Linked DNA regions of Homo sapiens: region 2 is linked to region 1. A link means that fine-mapping ties the variant in region 1 to the expression of a gene that starts in the linked region. Tissue or cell type: whole blood. Region 1 holds a variant in brackets; the other region holds the start of a gene. All regions are shown on one strand. Distances are from middle to middle.

What was found. PIP is the estimated chance that this variant, and not a neighbour inherited with it, causes the effect.
Region 2: SARAF starts here. The variant in region 1 is fine-mapped to the expression of SARAF in whole blood (TOPMed, PIP above 0.99).

What each region holds. Positions count from the first base shown.
Region 1 is chr8:30,052,230-30,060,336 of GRCh38, reverse strand. No RefSeq gene overlaps it. Among named protein-coding and RNA genes, the nearest start is that of SARAF, 27 kb to the left of the region's middle. RefSeq lists an enhancer at 2,198-3,397. The variant G/A (reference allele first, on the strand shown) is at 4,032.
Region 2 is chr8:30,079,202-30,087,308 of GRCh38, reverse strand. It overlaps SARAF (store-operated calcium entry associated regulatory factor), which reads left to right and starts at 4,245. Exons shown (of 6, transcript NM_016127.6): 1 at 4,245-4,462. The coding sequence starts at 4,360. RefSeq lists a silencer at 3,922-4,291 and an enhancer at 4,332-4,681.

The DNA of each region.
Region 1 (8,107 bases):
TGGAAGAAATAGATGGCAGTCTACTAAATTCTTATTTGATTTATGTATGTGGAAGAGTTCTAGGCTGAGTAAACGGAAGTCTTTTTTTTTTTTTTTTTTTTTTTTTTGAGACCAAGTCTCACTCTGTCACCCAGGCTGGAGAGAGCAGGGGCATGATCTCGGCTCACTGCAACCTCTGCCTCCCAGGTTCAAGCAATTCTCCTGCCTCACCCTCCCGAGTAGCTGGGATTACAGGCGCCTGCCACCATGCCTGGCTAATTTTTGTATTTTTAGTAGAGACAGGGTTTCACCAAGTTGGCCAGGCTGGTCTCAAACTCCTGACCTCAGGTGATCCGCCCGCCTCGGCCTCCCAAAGTGCTGGGATTATAGGTGTGAGCCACTGTGCCCAGCCAACAGAAGTCTATCTTAAGTCACCACAAGTGAGTCATAGCCTCTGAATCATTTCCTAGACTTGAGCTGGTTTATAGCTCCAGAATCCCTTCAATGAAGGAGAGGCTGGGTTCCCCTTGAGGAAGAACCCTACCACATTGCCAGGTTTATATTGTTTATCTTTCCCCCAGTCTTCCCTCAATGGACCCGTGGCTATTTACTGGGGTAACTATGCCCTGGGGAAAGGGAAAATAATCAGATAGTTTAGGGATTACTGGACACTGAATTGATGCTAATTCCAGGAGGCTCAAAACATTACTGTGGTCCACCAGTCAGAGTAAGAGCTTATAGAGTTTTAGCTCAGATCAATTTCACAGTGAGTCCCATGGGTCCCTCGAATGATCCTGTGATTATTACACAGGAATGGAACCTGCGTTCTAGAATGCAGGATTAGAATAGACATACTCAGCAACTAGCAGAATCTCTACGTTGGGTCCCTGACCTGTGGAATGAAGGCTGTTATGGTGGCATAGGCCAAGTGAAAGTCACTAGAACTACCTCTATCTACAAAAATGATAAACCAATAGTGGCTGTGATATGGACACTTGATTAAAGGGGCTGAGAGGACTTGTGGGGAATCCCAATTGGAAGAACATCCAAGTTAGAGATGAAGGCGACTAGGGAGAGTTGGAGTGAGGAAATGGGGTGAAATGGAGGGACACAGAAAGTGCCTGAGCTCTGTGCCTCAGAATGTGATCTTATTTGGAAATAGAGTCTATGTTAGTCCATTTGTGTTGCTATAAAGGAATACCGGAGACCAAGTAATTTATAAAGAGGTTTAATTGGCTCACAGTTGTGCAGGCTGTACAGGAAGCATGGTGCCGGCATCTGCTCCTGGTGATGCCTTGGGAAGCTTCCCATCATGGTGGAAGGTGCAGGGAACAGGTGCGTCACATGGTGAGAGTGGGAGCAAGAGAGAGCGAGGGAGGGAGGTCCCAGATTGATTGACTGATTTTTTTTGAGACAGAGTCTTGCTCTGTCACCCAGGCTGGACTGCAGTGGTGTGATCTTGGCTCACTGCCTCACCTCACCTCTGCATCGTGGGTTCAAGTGATTCTCCTGCATCAGCCTCCTGAGTACCTGGGATTACAGGTGTGTGCCACCACACGTGGCTAATTTTTGTATTTTTTTTTAATAGAGGCAGGGTTTTACCATGTTGGCTGAACTCCTGGCCTCAAGTGACCCTCCTGCCTTGGCCTCCCAAAGTGCTGGGATTACAGGTGTGAGCTACCGCACCTGGCCAGGTCCCAGACTTTTAAACAACCAGATATTGTGTGAACTAACTGAGCAAGAACTCATTCATCACGAGGGGGATGGTGCTAAACCATTCATGAGGGAATCCTCCTGTATGCTCCCAACACCTCCCACCAGGCCCCACCTGCAACATTGGGAATCACATTCAATGTGGGATTTGGAGGGGACAAACATCCAAACCATAACAGGGTTACTGCAGATGAAATTACGATGAGGTTATACTGGAGTAGAGTGAACACCAATGATTCATGTCATTATAAAATGAGGAAATTTGGACACAGACACACAAACAGAAATAATCATGTAATGTCTGGAGTTCTGCCAAAAGCCAATATATGCCAAAGATTACCAGCAAACCACCAGAAGCTGAGAGTCAGGCCTGGAACAGATCCTTCCTCAGCACATACAGAGGGAGCATGGCCCTGCTACCACCTGGATATCAGACTCACAGCCTCTAGAACCGTGAGATAGTAAGTTCTGCCTTTCTGGAGGGATTACAGAGATTAATGCCACCATCAAGGACTTGAAGGATATAGGGCTGGTGCTTCCTACCACATCCCCATTCAACTCGCCTATTTGGCCTGTGCCGAAAACGGATAGAGAGTAATAATAGGTTGTCATAAACTTACCCAGATGGTGACTTCAATTGCAACTGCTGTTCCAGATGTAGTTTCATCACTTGGGTACATGAACATATCTGGTAGTTGAAACACAAGTGCTCTGGCAAATGCTTTTCCTCCATACCTGTTAGTACACACCATCAGAAGCAGCTTGCTTTCAGCTGGCAGGGCCAGCAATACACCTTCACTTTTCAGTCCTATGTCATAATTTAGTCTGCAAGGACCTTGGTTACCTTTCCCTTCCACAAGACTTCACACTGGTCCATGACATTTATTATATTAAGCTGATTGGATCTGATGAGCAAGAAGAGCAACTACCAAGAAGTAGCAACTACTGTAGATGTATTGGTAAGGCATTTGTATGTTAGAGGGTGGGAAACAAATCTGACAAAGATTCAGGGGCTTTCTACCTCAGGGAAATTTCTAGGAGTCCAGTAGTATGGGACATGTTGAAATATCTTTCTAAGGCCAAGGATAAATCGTTACATCTGGCTCCAGATGAAAAAAATGATGCAATACCTAGTGGATCTTGCGGGCAACATATTCCTTATGTGGTATGCAACTCTAGTCCATTTACTGACTGATCGCAAAGCTGCTAGTTTTAACAGGAGCCTAGAACAAAAGAAGGCTCTGTGATAGGTCCAGGTTATTGGGCAAGCTCAAGAGTCATTTTAATATTCATTTTTTTTTCTTTTTTCAGAATAGTCTTGCTCTGTTGCCCAGGCTTTAGTGCAGTGGTGTGATCTTGGCTCACTGCAAACTCTGCCTCCTGGGTTCAAGTGATTCACCTGCCTCAGTCTCCAGGGTAGCTAGGATTACAGGTGCCCATCACCATGCCTGGCTAATTTTTGTATTTTTAGTAGAGACGGGGTTTCACCATGTTGGCCAGGCTGGTCATGAACGCCTGAATTCAAGTGATCCGCCCGTCTTGGCCTCCCAAAGTGCTGGGATTACAGGCATGAGCCACCGCGCCTGGCCAGCAACCTAATTTTCCCTTGATAATTAGGATGAATTACCTGTTAGAGTGGCCCCTTACTTTGTCCATTTGTTCAGTAGCATGAGGAGCCCAAACTGTCCAAGGACAGTCTCAGGTTTCCAATTCATCGTGACAGTGTTTCCTGGTGGAAGCATTCCTTCCTTGTGCACTGGAACTTCCAAATCCACTATATCAGCACCACTTGTACACCTTCTCAGAGGCTCTTAACTGCCTTCTCCTTTCACGTGGTTGGTGTCACACCCACACCAGGTCACCCCTCCACTTTGAGATTTGAATAAGACGACACATTGCAAGGTGTGGAATATGGTTTCCTGTGTGGCTGCCGGGAGCCCAGATGGTGCAACTCAGTTGTTTAGGGAATTAGCTCAATGGAATGAGCAATGACCAATGGGAAATAAATTCCTATCTTTTCAGGGATTACTGCAAGATGTGTTTTCTTTTTGCAACTCTTCTGGAGAAGTCCTTTGTGCAGAGTGAACCTGCCTGCAAAGCGACCTACTGTGTGTCTGTAGCTCATTGTGAAGCAGTGCCGCAATCCATTGCATGCCATTGCATCACATCTTTATTTGTCTCACTTTTTTCCCTCACCCTGTGTCTTTGGACATGCTTCTGTCCAAGTGCCAGAAATGTTTTTCTTTTTTTTTGCTTGAGTTCTGCTTTCTAGAGGACTTGTGTTAAGACAATTGGTGTGAAAGTTGTACAGGATGGAATTTTGGAATTGGACTGTTCAA[G/A]GAATCAGAAGAACTTGAACATCGACATCTTCCTAAGTCTTTCTTTCTGGCATAGCAGCCCCTTCCTTCTTGCTGAAGGGGATTAGCCTTCCTTGTCTAGAGACCATGTAACGGCCTCACCTGAAGCAGATGCCTTGTAAGATAGCATTTTTTCTTAAAACTGAGTCCTGCCACATCTCTGCCTCCAGGCCAATAACTAGAGTCAGATCTCAACCTTAACAGGGAAAGACAGTCCCTGCTTTGGGAGGAAATAAGCCACACAGCAAAAGAATGATAACCTCTTGGAATTATAGCACTTGCCTTGGGAGGAAATAGGTCACATACTAAAAAAATCATGGTACCATACAGCTAATATGTACCAGCGAGAGTAGGGATAAACCATGTGGAAATTCATCTGGAAGTTGGGCTGTGGGAGGGGTGAAATATGGTGGAAAGAGAAGTCCTTTATGTTCACCTGTGAATTGGGATTCAATGTTCTGTCAAAGACATGAGCTACTGGTTCTAATAATTTTCTGGGATGGTTTCTTGATGGATGATGATGGTTTCCTGATTGGATGTGATGATGCCTACCGTAAGTGAGGTAGAGATGCCAGACTTTCTATGGTATAGTATTGAGCACAGTATCTGAAGACTCAAGGAAGTGGGATGTTAGAATTTACTTATGAGACTGAATAATCCAACATTTGACTCTACTCTGAGGGTTCAGAGCATCTCCCTTTACCAAGGTAGTAAGGAAGGTACTGGTGAGAGAGTTATTAGCATTTTTAAGGGCTCAATGATAGTTGTCCTCTGTAGGCAAAGGTTAATAGTGGGAAATGCTGTCATGAAAATGGACTTCCCAAGATTAACAGAGATAGTGGGTTTCCGAAGTGGCAAATTGCATCTCTTCATTGTCAGAGCCAACCAAGGTGGATGGAATTCCATACAGGACAGCAAGTCAAGAGTAGCCTGATTTACAAATGGATCTGCATGATATGCTGATACCACCTGGAAGGACAGTGAAGGGAAGTGCCCTGAGGGGGTGGAATTTTGAGCTATGCATCTGAAATAAGAGATGGCAAGACATATGTATCTACACTTTTCAAAATAGACAGTGGTTTCTGGTTTGAATGGGTGACCAGGGGCTTGGAAAAATGAGACTGAAAAATTGACGATAAAGCTGGGCAAGCTGGCTCATGCCTGTAATCCCAGCACTTTGGGAGGCCGAGGTGGGCGAATCATCTGAGGTCAGGCATTAGAGACTAGCCTGGCCAACATGGTAAAACCCCATCTCTACTAAAAATACAAAAATTAGGCTGGGCGCAGTGGCTCACGCCTGTAATCCCAGCACTTTGGGAGGCTGAGGCAGGCAAATCACAAAGTCAGGAGATCGAGACCGTCCTGGCTAACACAGTGAAACCCTGTCTCTATTAAAAATACAAAAAATTAGCCAGGCGTGGTGGCACACACCTGTAGTCCCAGCTACTCGAGAGGCTGAGGCAGAAGAATCACTTGAACCCAGGAGGCAGAGGTTGCAGTGAGATGAGATCGTGCCACTGCACTCCAGCCTGGGTGACAGAACGAGACTCTGTCTCCAAAAAAAAAAAAAAAAAGAAAGAAAAATTGATAAGGATATCTGGGGGAAATGTAGATGTATGGTCCTCTCTTAACAAAGATGAGATTTTTTTTTTTTGTCCAATATACATGCTTACAACTACCTGAGTAGTAGAATATCACAGAAATTCTGGCATCTCCACCTTGCTTACTATAGGCATCATCACATCCAAGCAGGAAGCCATCATCCCTCAGGAAACCATCCACTCAGAGTATTAGGATCAGTAAGTAGTTCATGTCCCCGACAGAACGTTGCATCTTAAGTCACTTCATAAGATGACATTTTCTGTGGCTATTATTCAGCCTCTTTTTTTCAGCAAGCCCTACTCCTGTTTCATTGGCTCATAAACAAAGTGGCTAAGGTGGTAGGGATGAAAGTTATCCATCGATTCAGCAAAAGGGTCTTCCATTCACCAAAACCGATCAGGTTACAACCGCTGCTGAGTGCCCTATCTCCCAACGGCAGAGGCCAACACTGAACCCTGAATACGGTTCAATTCCCTGGGGAAATCAGCCCACCATCTGGTGGCATGTTGATTACATGAGACCACTTCTATCATGAAAGGGGCAATGATTTGTTGTCACTGAAGTAGACATTTACTCTGGGTTTGGATTGGCCCTTCCCACTCGAAAGGCTGTTGTTGAAACCATGATATGTAGATTTACAGAATGCCTTATTGTGTATCACAATGTTTCACATTGTTTCTAAGTAAATCATTTTCTAGTGGATGAAGGGCAGGATGGGAATAATGCCCACATAATTTATAGGAGTTCCTGTCTTCCCTGGATCCAGAAATAGTAAATCTTCATGATTTTGCTAGCTCTGTGATGCCTTCGGGAAGATGTCTTTTCATATTTTGCTCAGTTTTGTTAGTTTCCGTGTGTGATAGGATTGGTTCAAATCATCTTGCCCTCACAAACATAAAAGTGGAATTCCCTTACTGTAGATATTTGAAGACAGCTCTATTTTTTATTCAAGTTAAAAATCCAAAACACTCTCAATCATTTCTTACTTTACCTAGCTTTTGGATCCTCCACCATCTGGTCATCTACCTAGGTTTGATCATGTTTTTTTTTGTTGTTGTTGTTTTTTGTTTTTTAAATCCCCAGCACAATCTTTCCTTATTAAAGGAGAAAAGACACATTTCTTCCTTACATTAAAATATTCAAAATTATGAGTATTTATCAAGTTAAATTATATTTAATTAAATTATATAGATAAATCATTCACAACTATATATAAGTTAAAATATGCATATTTCATAATTGAAAAAAGAAAAGCAATGCAAGTTCTTTGTAAAACATTCGAACAGTTTAGAAGGATATAAAGAGAAAAGAAAGAGTCTGTATCTGGCTAGGCATGGTGGCACATGCCTGTAATCTCAGCTACTCAGGGGGCTGAGGTAGGAGGATCACTTGAGCCCAGGAGTCTGAGGCTGCAATGAGCTATGACCGTGTCAGTCACGACAGAGCAAGACCCTGTCTCCAAAAAGAAAAAAGTCTATATCTGCCCAACTCCCCACGGCCCCCTTCGTTTCATCCTCTCAGTGTGGTCTCTCTACCTAGAAATAATTTCTGTTAACATTTTTTGGTTATTATTATAGAAATTATACACAATGTCCAGAATTTTTTCACAAAGAATAAATCTATTCTTTTCACAGCTGCATAGTATTCCATCATATGGATATATTATAATTTAATCTCACCATTCCTTTATCAATATCAATATACATTTACCACATTTTCAATTTTGTTCCCTATTTTCAACAATGCAATAATGAACATCCGAACATATCTTTTGTACATGAGTTTATGTTGTAGCTGCTCCAAACACTGGAGTCAGAGACTTTATTATAGTTTAGATCTTTAATGTACATGTGTTTAGATTTATAAGATATATTTCTAGAATAAGATTTATGCTTAAATGTGGCACCCAGACTGTAATTAAGATATGGATGTCAGAGAAGCTGCCATTTAAACTTGGCCTTTGATCTTCCTGCATGGGAGGATAAAGTGAGTCATTCCAAAGCGGATCTTCTTTGTTCTTTGTGGTTCATAAGTAAAGATAGGGTAAGCAGACATCTATTGCTCTTGGGGAAATGTACAACAAAGCCTTTTAAAAAGGGCTTGATGAAGGCTGCTTTTTAAAATATGCAGAGATGAAAGTTTGCTTAAGCAGAAGTACATTTTCATGGAAACCCAGGTGGCTACTGGAAGAGTATGCAGTATCTCTCACACATCTCTTTTGGACTTCCTCATAAATAGTACCTTTTGGATGGTTAGAGGCAGCTCTTAGGGGAGAGAAGGATGAGTGAAGACCGGGAATTCTGGGTTATTACCCGATTCTACATAGTCTTGGGAAAAAGTGGGTTCTGGGTTAGCTTGTGGCTATGTCTGGAACTGGAATTGTCCTGGATCCACAAGGGCACAATGAGTGTGTTGGGAAGAATGTCTGCATATGTGGTTTTAACCTGGAGAGCTAT
Region 2 (8,107 bases), 27 kb before region 1:
GCCTCCCGAGTAGCTGGGACCACGGGCATGCACCACTATGCCTGGCTAATTTTTTTTTTTTTTTTTTTTTGTAGAGACAAGGTCTTCTTACGTTGCCCAGGCTGGTCTCGAACTCCTGGGCTCAAGTGATACACCCACCTCGGGCCTCCAAAAGTGCTGGGATTACAGGTGTTAGCCACCGCACCCAGCCCCTCCTGTATACTTTAAATAATCTCTAAATTATTTATAATACCTAATAACAATGTAAATACTATGTAAATAGTTGTTATACTGTATTGTTTACAGACACCAAAAAGTCAGTCACCAGAAAGACCATGTGATTAGAGTGTTAGAGGGTTGGAAATTTCAGCCCACCCACCAACCAACAGGAGAGATCGGGGGCGGGTGGCTGGAGATTAAGCTCTATACAAACTCTTAGACAACAAGATTTCATGAGCTTCTAGGTTGCTGAATACAGGGAGGTGCTGGGAGGGTGGAGTGCCCAGCGAGGGCATGGAAGCCCCATGGCCTTCTTATCTTTGCCCTATCCATCTCTTCATCTGGCTGTTCATCTGTATCCTTTATAAATCCTTTACAATAAACTGGTAAACATAAAATATTTTCCTGGACTGACGTCTGAATTGGGGCAGTCTTGTGGGAGACTGGGCCCTTAACTTGAATTGAGTTATAGGACATCGTGTTGATGTCCTTTAGAGTTGGTTGGTGTGTAGGGAAATACTCCCCCAGCCCCTCTTCTGGTCACAGAACTGCTCTGTGTTTTGTGCCAGTAGAAAGGAGAAAACAGTTTGTTTTTTCCTTTTACAGCCTCATCATTTAGCTCTCAGCTCAAATGGTAATTTCTCAGAGAATCTTTTCTGGGCCATCCTACTTGTTATGGCACTACCTGTCATATTGCTCTGTTTTCTTCTTCAAGGTACTTATTATTATTTGAGATAGAGTCTTGCTCTGTTGCCCAGGCTGGAGTGCAGTGATGCAGTCATGGCTTGCTGCAGCCTCAACCTCCAGGGCTCAAGTGATCCTCCCACCTCAGCCTCTTGAGTGGCTGGGACTACAGGCACATGCCACCACATCTGGCTATTTTTTTTTTTTTTTTGAGACGGAGTCTCACTCTTTCGCCCAGGCTGGAGTGCAGTGGTGCGATCTTGGCTCACTGCAAGCTCCGCCTCTCGGGTTCACACCATTCTCCTGCCTCAGCCTCCTGAGTAGCTGGGACTTAGGCACCCGCCACCATGCCCAGCTAATTTTTTGTATTTTTAGTAGAGACGGGGTTTCACTGTGTTAGCCAAGATGGTCTCGATCTCCTGACTTCATGATCTGCCTACCTCGGCCTCCCAAAGTGCTGGGATTACAGGCGTGAGCCACTGTGCCTGGCCACATCTGGCTAATTTTTTAAAAACAATTTTTTGTGGAGATGGGGTCTTACTATGTTGCCCAGATTGGCCTCAAACTCCTGGTCTCAAGTGATCCTGAGCCTCGGCTTCCCAGAGTGCTGAGATTACAGGTGTGAGCCACCGTGCCTGGCCCAAAGCACTTATTTATTTGAAATGACATGATTTGTTGGCTACCTCTCCCACTAGAATGTTTATTATAACAACCTTTCATCTTTTGTTCATGACTGTCCAGAACTGTACATGGTACATGGTGGGAATCTAAAATAACAAACATTCTCTTGTTAAGGTAATTAGTGATTTCTACATTGCAAAATTCAGAGACCAAATTTTGCTTCAAGCTTTCAGCAACAGTGGACACTGTTGACCATTCTTTCTTTCTCTCAATTACCATATCCTATTGTCCTAGTTCTTCCTCCTTCTTCACCAGAGGTTACTTCTCAGATTCTTTCTAGAATCTTCTGCTTGAGGTTCAAATGTTAGTGTTTCCATAGCCTGGGCCTCCTTTTTTGTGGTATCTCAATTCTCTCATGTTACTGTGTCTCTTCCCACATGTCTTAGTTCATTTTGTGTTGCTATAACAGAATACCTGAGACTGGGAAATTTATAAAGTATAGAGATTTATTTCTTATGGTTCTGGAGGCTGGGAAATCCTAGGTCCAGGGGCCTGCATCTGGTGGGGAGCTTCCTGCTGTGTCATTTCACGGTGGTAGGCAAAAGAGAAAGGGAGCTGAACTCATCCCTTTTATCGGGAACCCACTCCCCAATAACTAACCCACTCCTGTGATAATAGCATTAAGAGCTCTGCCCTCATAACCTAATCACCCCTTAAGAGTCCCCCCTCTCAACACTATTGCTTTGGGGAATAAGTTTCCAACACATGAGCTTTGGGGGACACATTCAAACAATAGCATCATGACATTAAATGCTATCTTTATATTTACAACATAACTACCAAATTTACCTTAGTTTTGAACTTCAGACTTTTACAGTTTATCTATTTATTTGACACGTCTACCTGGATGCCTAATAGTCACCTCAAACTTAACATGTTGAGCATAGATTCTCTATTATCTCTTATTTCAGTCCTTGGTCCCAGCATTGGTTGGTTCCATGCCGAGGCCCCACTGCTCTGCCATCTCTTATTCCACTCTTCCCCTAACTTACTTTGCTTCAGTTATGGCCTTGTTTGCCTCTTGTCCCCCAAATTTTGTTTTATTCACTGCTGTATCCCCAATACTGATAACAGTGCCTGGCAGGTACTGTTAGGTACTAATAGGTGCTCAATATAATAATCTGGTAAACATAAAGTGTTTTTTTGAGTTCTGTGAGCCATTCTAGCAAATTATGGAACTCAAGATGGGGGGTTATGAAAACCCCAATTTATTTGTTGAGAGGGAGTCTCTCTCCATGGTCCAGGTGCAGTGGGGCAGTCTTGACTCACTGCAACTTTCGCCTCCCAGGTTCAAGCGATTCTCTTGCCTCAGCCTCCCAAATAGCTGGGATTACAGGTGTGCACCACCACGCCCAGCTATTTTTCCTATTTTTAGTAGAGGTGGGGTTTTGCCATGCTGGCCAGGCTGGTCTTAAAGTCCTGACCTCAGGCGATTCACCTGCCTTGGCCTTCCAAAATGCTGGGATTACAGGCATGAGCCACCACGCCCGGCCTGGAAACCCTAATTTATAGCTGGTTGGTCAGAAGCATAGGTCACAACCTGAGACTTGTGATTGATGTCTGAAGTTGGGGCCATCTTGTGGGACTGAACTCTTTATAGGATCTGACCAAATAACTCTTCCTCGAAACACAAAGTTAGGGCTTTTGCATCCACTGTTCCCCAGATGGGAAGATGAGTCCCCTGATCTTTGTACGGCTAGTTCTTTCTCATCATTCAGGTCCCAAGCTTCAAAAACCACTTCCTCAGCAAGGCCCTCCCTGAAGTTGTGTCCCCAGGCTCCATTATATCACCCTGTTTTTCATCAATGTTATTACCTATCATTACCTATTATTTTTGTTGTTTAATTGGTATGTCGTTTGTCCTATTCTATTTCAATGAGTACAGGGATCTTGTCTGTACCATCCATGCCTAAAACAGTGCCTGGTGCGTATTAGGTATTCAACATATATTCATTGAATGAATGAATGAATGAATGAATGAATGAATGAATGAAAGAAACCCAAGCCTGCTAGACCTCAAAAGCCCAGAGAACTGTTTTCTCTGGCTGGTTCTTCATTCAGACGATATTTTCTCCTCTTGACATTTTATAGTCTTCCGGCCTCCATGCGCAAGGAACCATGTAAAGGTTCTGAGCCTTGAAACCAGACAATGTATTTCCCTGTTACTTTTCGCTTGAATCTTCTCTGTATTTAGCAACCAGTCATAGAACACTAACCATGTACCAAGCGCTATGCTAAGTGCTGAACACATAGAGCTGAATAAAGCACAGAACTACCCTTGGTACAATTATTGAGGTTTTAATAATACATAATTTGACTACATTTCTTAGATTTCGCGTCGTGACGTTTTCAGCCTCTCAAACTGCATCGCCTACGCACAGAAGCTTCCCGAATCTCAGACGAGACACAACAAAGCTGCGCGCTGCCCTCGCCCCGCCCGCGGGCGCGGCGGCGACAGGCCCTCGGCCCCGCCCACACCGCGGCGCCACGCCTCCAACCCGCCTCCAGCCGTGCCTCCCCAGGCCCTTGGCCCCGCCCACACCGCCTCGCCCCGCCCCAAGCCGCGCTGTGCTCCAGGGGCGGGGGCCCACGGCGGCCACTCACTGAGCCCCACGGGCCGCAGCGGCAGTGACGTAGGGTTGGCGCACGGATCCGTTGCGGCTGCAGCTCTGCAGTCGGGCCGTTCCTTCGCCGCCGCCAGGGGTAGCGGTGTAGCTGCGCAGCGTCGCGCGCGCTACCGCACCCAGGTTCGGCCCGTAGGCGTCTGGCAGCCCGGCGCCATCTTCATCGAGCGCCATGGCCGCAGCCTGCGGGCCGGGAGCGGCCGGGTACTGCTTGCTCCTCGGCTTGCATTTGTTTCTGCTGACCGCGGGCCCTGCCCTGGGCTGGAACGACCCTGGTGAGTGCTGCCAGGGCCCTCAGGCGCTTCGTTCGCCCTTTTCCGCCGCCGTCAGCCGGTGCAGGCTCCCCTGCGTTTCCGTGCGCCGTCTTCCCGGAGCCTGGGTGCCCGGATTCCCCATGTCTGACCTCTTTGCTGTTCGTGCTCTCCCTGGTTCCACTGCTCTTCCCAGGCGTCTTGGGAGGCGGGTAGGGACTGCTCGAGTGGGCGGGGCGGGACGGCTGGAGATCCTTAAGGTCCCCTTTCTCCCTGCCCCGGACTCCCGGAATTTGCCCATTGTCGTCTTTCTCATCTCTGAGTATAACTGGAGAGCTGGACACTCACCTGCGCATCTGCTTTGTTGTTATGGCTGTGTGATGTCATCGTGGCCTGCTGTTGTCATGGCTGCCTGTTGCTATCGCCGGCCGTTGCCTGCCACTGGCAGTCTCTGAGTCACCCTTAGCGGACAGGGCTGCAGACCTCGCAGGTCTGTTAGCAGAATCGCAGATTGCACTCTTTTTTTTTTTTTTGAGTCGGAGTCTCACATTGTCGCCCCGGCCGCACTGCAATGACGTGATCTCGGCTCACTGCAACCTCCGCCTCCTGGGTTCAAGAGATTCTCCTGCCTCGGCCTCACCGGTAGCTGAGATTACGGGTGCCCACCACCATGCCTGGCTATTTTTTTGTATTTTTAGTAGAGACGGGGTTTTACTATGTTGGCCAGGCTGGTCTCGACCTCCTGACCTCGTGATCCACCCGCCTTCATCCTCCCAAAGTGCTGGGATTACAGGCGTGAGCCACCGCGTCTTTATGAGAACCGCTGCCTCTTATCTGACGATTGCAGTGATGTACATCGCGCGGCACCAGCTCTTCCCATTGGCTTTCACCGTAGAGAAGAATTTAAAAAATAATTTTCTCGGTTTTTTTTAGTGATGGTACATGATAAGTGGGTTTTAGGAAAGAGGTTCTTTTATGTCAGTACAGTATTAAAATTGTCTAAAGAATTTTCATGGGATCAGTAATATTCCGTGCAATTAATACGTATATGTCTATATACTTAGATACAGATTTTGACTTTTTCCATGTAATAAATGACGCATGCTGTTACTTTGGAATTCTGTAAAAAAAAAAAAAAATGAAAACAACATCATTTTTGCTTTGCGAAGTAAAGATGGCATGGAAAGCATATTGCCTTTGTGATTTGGTGATTGGAAATGCCTGCATTGTCGAATTTAAGCAACAGGTTTATTTCTATAATAGCCTATTCTTACATGCTGAAATGAGAGAGAAGGTGCTATTTGCAAGCACATCACGTTGAGTAGTCATTTGATGTGGACATTTTATTACCAAAAATAAAAAGCCAAGTTGTATTTAAATGTCTGTACGTTTTTCTTTTGTATTTCTAGAAAGCTGTGTATGAGTGGGAGACTTGATCAGAATTACAAGTGAAAACCTAGAATGAAACTTTAATTTGTTGAACTTTGAATCAGTTCGTAAATAAATTTAATAAAGGAAGTTTACAGTTGAAGAGCCAGAAGAACTATAAAAACTATGAAAGAAGAACCAAATTTAAATTAAAGATGAACCACTTCCTGGTTTATCTACGCTGTAAAACTATTGTTCTGGAACACAAAGCACCACAATATTTTGCAGAGTAAACTCAATTGTTTTATGTAAATTCTACTTCAAAGTTTACTTTGAGGAACTTTTTTGTTTTGTTTTGTTTTTTTGAGACAGTTTCACTCTTGTCGCCCAGGCTAGAGTGCAATGGCGCGATCTTGGCTCACCGCAACCTCTGCCTCCTGGGTTCAAGCGATTTTCCTGCCTCAGCCTCCCGAGTAGCTGGGATTACAGGCATGTGCCACCATGCCCGGCAAATTTTGTATTTTTAGTAGAGACAGGGTTTCTCCATGTTGGTCAGGCTGGTCTTGAACTCCCAACCTCAGGTGATCCGCCCGCCTTGGCCTCCCAAAGTGCTGGGATTACAGGCGTGAGCCACCGCACCCGGCACTTTGAGGAACTTTTTAAATGAAGATACTTTATTGACATACTATTTATTAAGTCCTTTACTAAAGCATTAATCGGCTCCCTAATTTATCTTTTGTTTGACTTGGATGCCATTACTTTAGCTCACATTGAGCAGTAATTTGTCTGGAAAAAAAAATTAGCACCATTCTAAAGAGATTACCAATGAATTTTCAAAATTCCTTATTGAATGTAATCTTATATTAAGTTACTCTTCCGGGTGTTGGGAATATAGCAGTGAACAAAACAGTGTCTTGCCTCCAAGGACTTTACCTCTATTGGGGAGAAATAGACAATAAACAGATAAACATGTAAATAACATGCTATATTGTGAAAATTGGTATGCACCGTGTATGATAAACAGCGTAAGGAGGACATGGTGTGCGGGCAGAAGTGGAGACTTAAAAAACGTACATTGGTCAGGGAAGTCACTGTTAGGGTGACATTTGACTGGAAACCTGAAGTGGGGAGGAGGAGTAAATGACCTGAAATTACTTATATCTTTAAAGGCTCATTTGGGCTGCTCTGTGGAAAACAGACCGAAGAGGGTAGGAGGGAAGCAGGGAAACCAGTGAATTAATATATATTGCTATCTATTTTAATATTGTACAGTAAGTTCTTAGAGTGGTGACCGCTTGGCCCAGGGCAGGAGCAGTAGAGAGCTGGTTAGAGTAGCTGGATTCTCTTGTCACCTGTTTGGAAGGTGGAGCTAACATGATCTTCTGAAGGATCAGATGTAGGAGTGAGAGGAGAGAAGATGAGAAGTCCAAGGTTTTTGGCTTGAGCAACTAGAAGCATGGAGTTAACCATTTCCTGAGATGTGGAAGAATGTGGGATGATCAGGTTTAGGGGAGTTTGGTTTTGTTTATCTTGTTTGAGACCTGCCGTGATTTTGATTTATGAGTCTGGAGTTCAGGGAGCTCCTGTGTCCCTTGACTGATCTAACTAGTGGGGCGTGGGTATTAGAATTTTGTTCTTGGACCTTAAGAATCTCTAGGGAAGAAAGATGCTATAGGATTATGGTAATGCTATTCCATCTTAAAACTTTCAGTAATATTTATCATACCTGATCACCTGTTATGCTTCAAGTACTCAGCCAGATAATAAATTATATCTAAGCTTCACAACAAATTTCAAGGTTGATAATATTTTAATTTTGTAGGTGAGGAAACTTCTACACAGGTAAATTAAATGCCTTGGCCAAAGTCACAGCCAGTTAGTGACACCAACTTAGTTCAGTGTTCTTTGCATTATTGCAACTCTGTTACAATAAATTCAATTTATTATTTCTGTTATTTAGTTGATTAATACAGTCTGATTTTTCTAAACCATTGAACATTTTCATTGTCTTATTTTTTATGTATGAGGAGGTAGTAGTTTGTGTTTAATGTAGCATGGTTTATTTGAATATAGTTCTTGGAAATTTTAGATCTGTAGCCCATGTGGAATTAAATTTTTATATAGCTTTAGGTGGATTTTCTTGTGGCTGCATAGTCAATTATGCCAGTGCTATTTATTAAAGAAGACATCTTTTATCCACTAAATTAAAAAGACCACTTCATCTTACTGAATTCCCAAATGTATCTTGATTTATTTCTGATCTTTCTTTTGTTTCACAATTTCCTTGTCTCTGTTCCAATT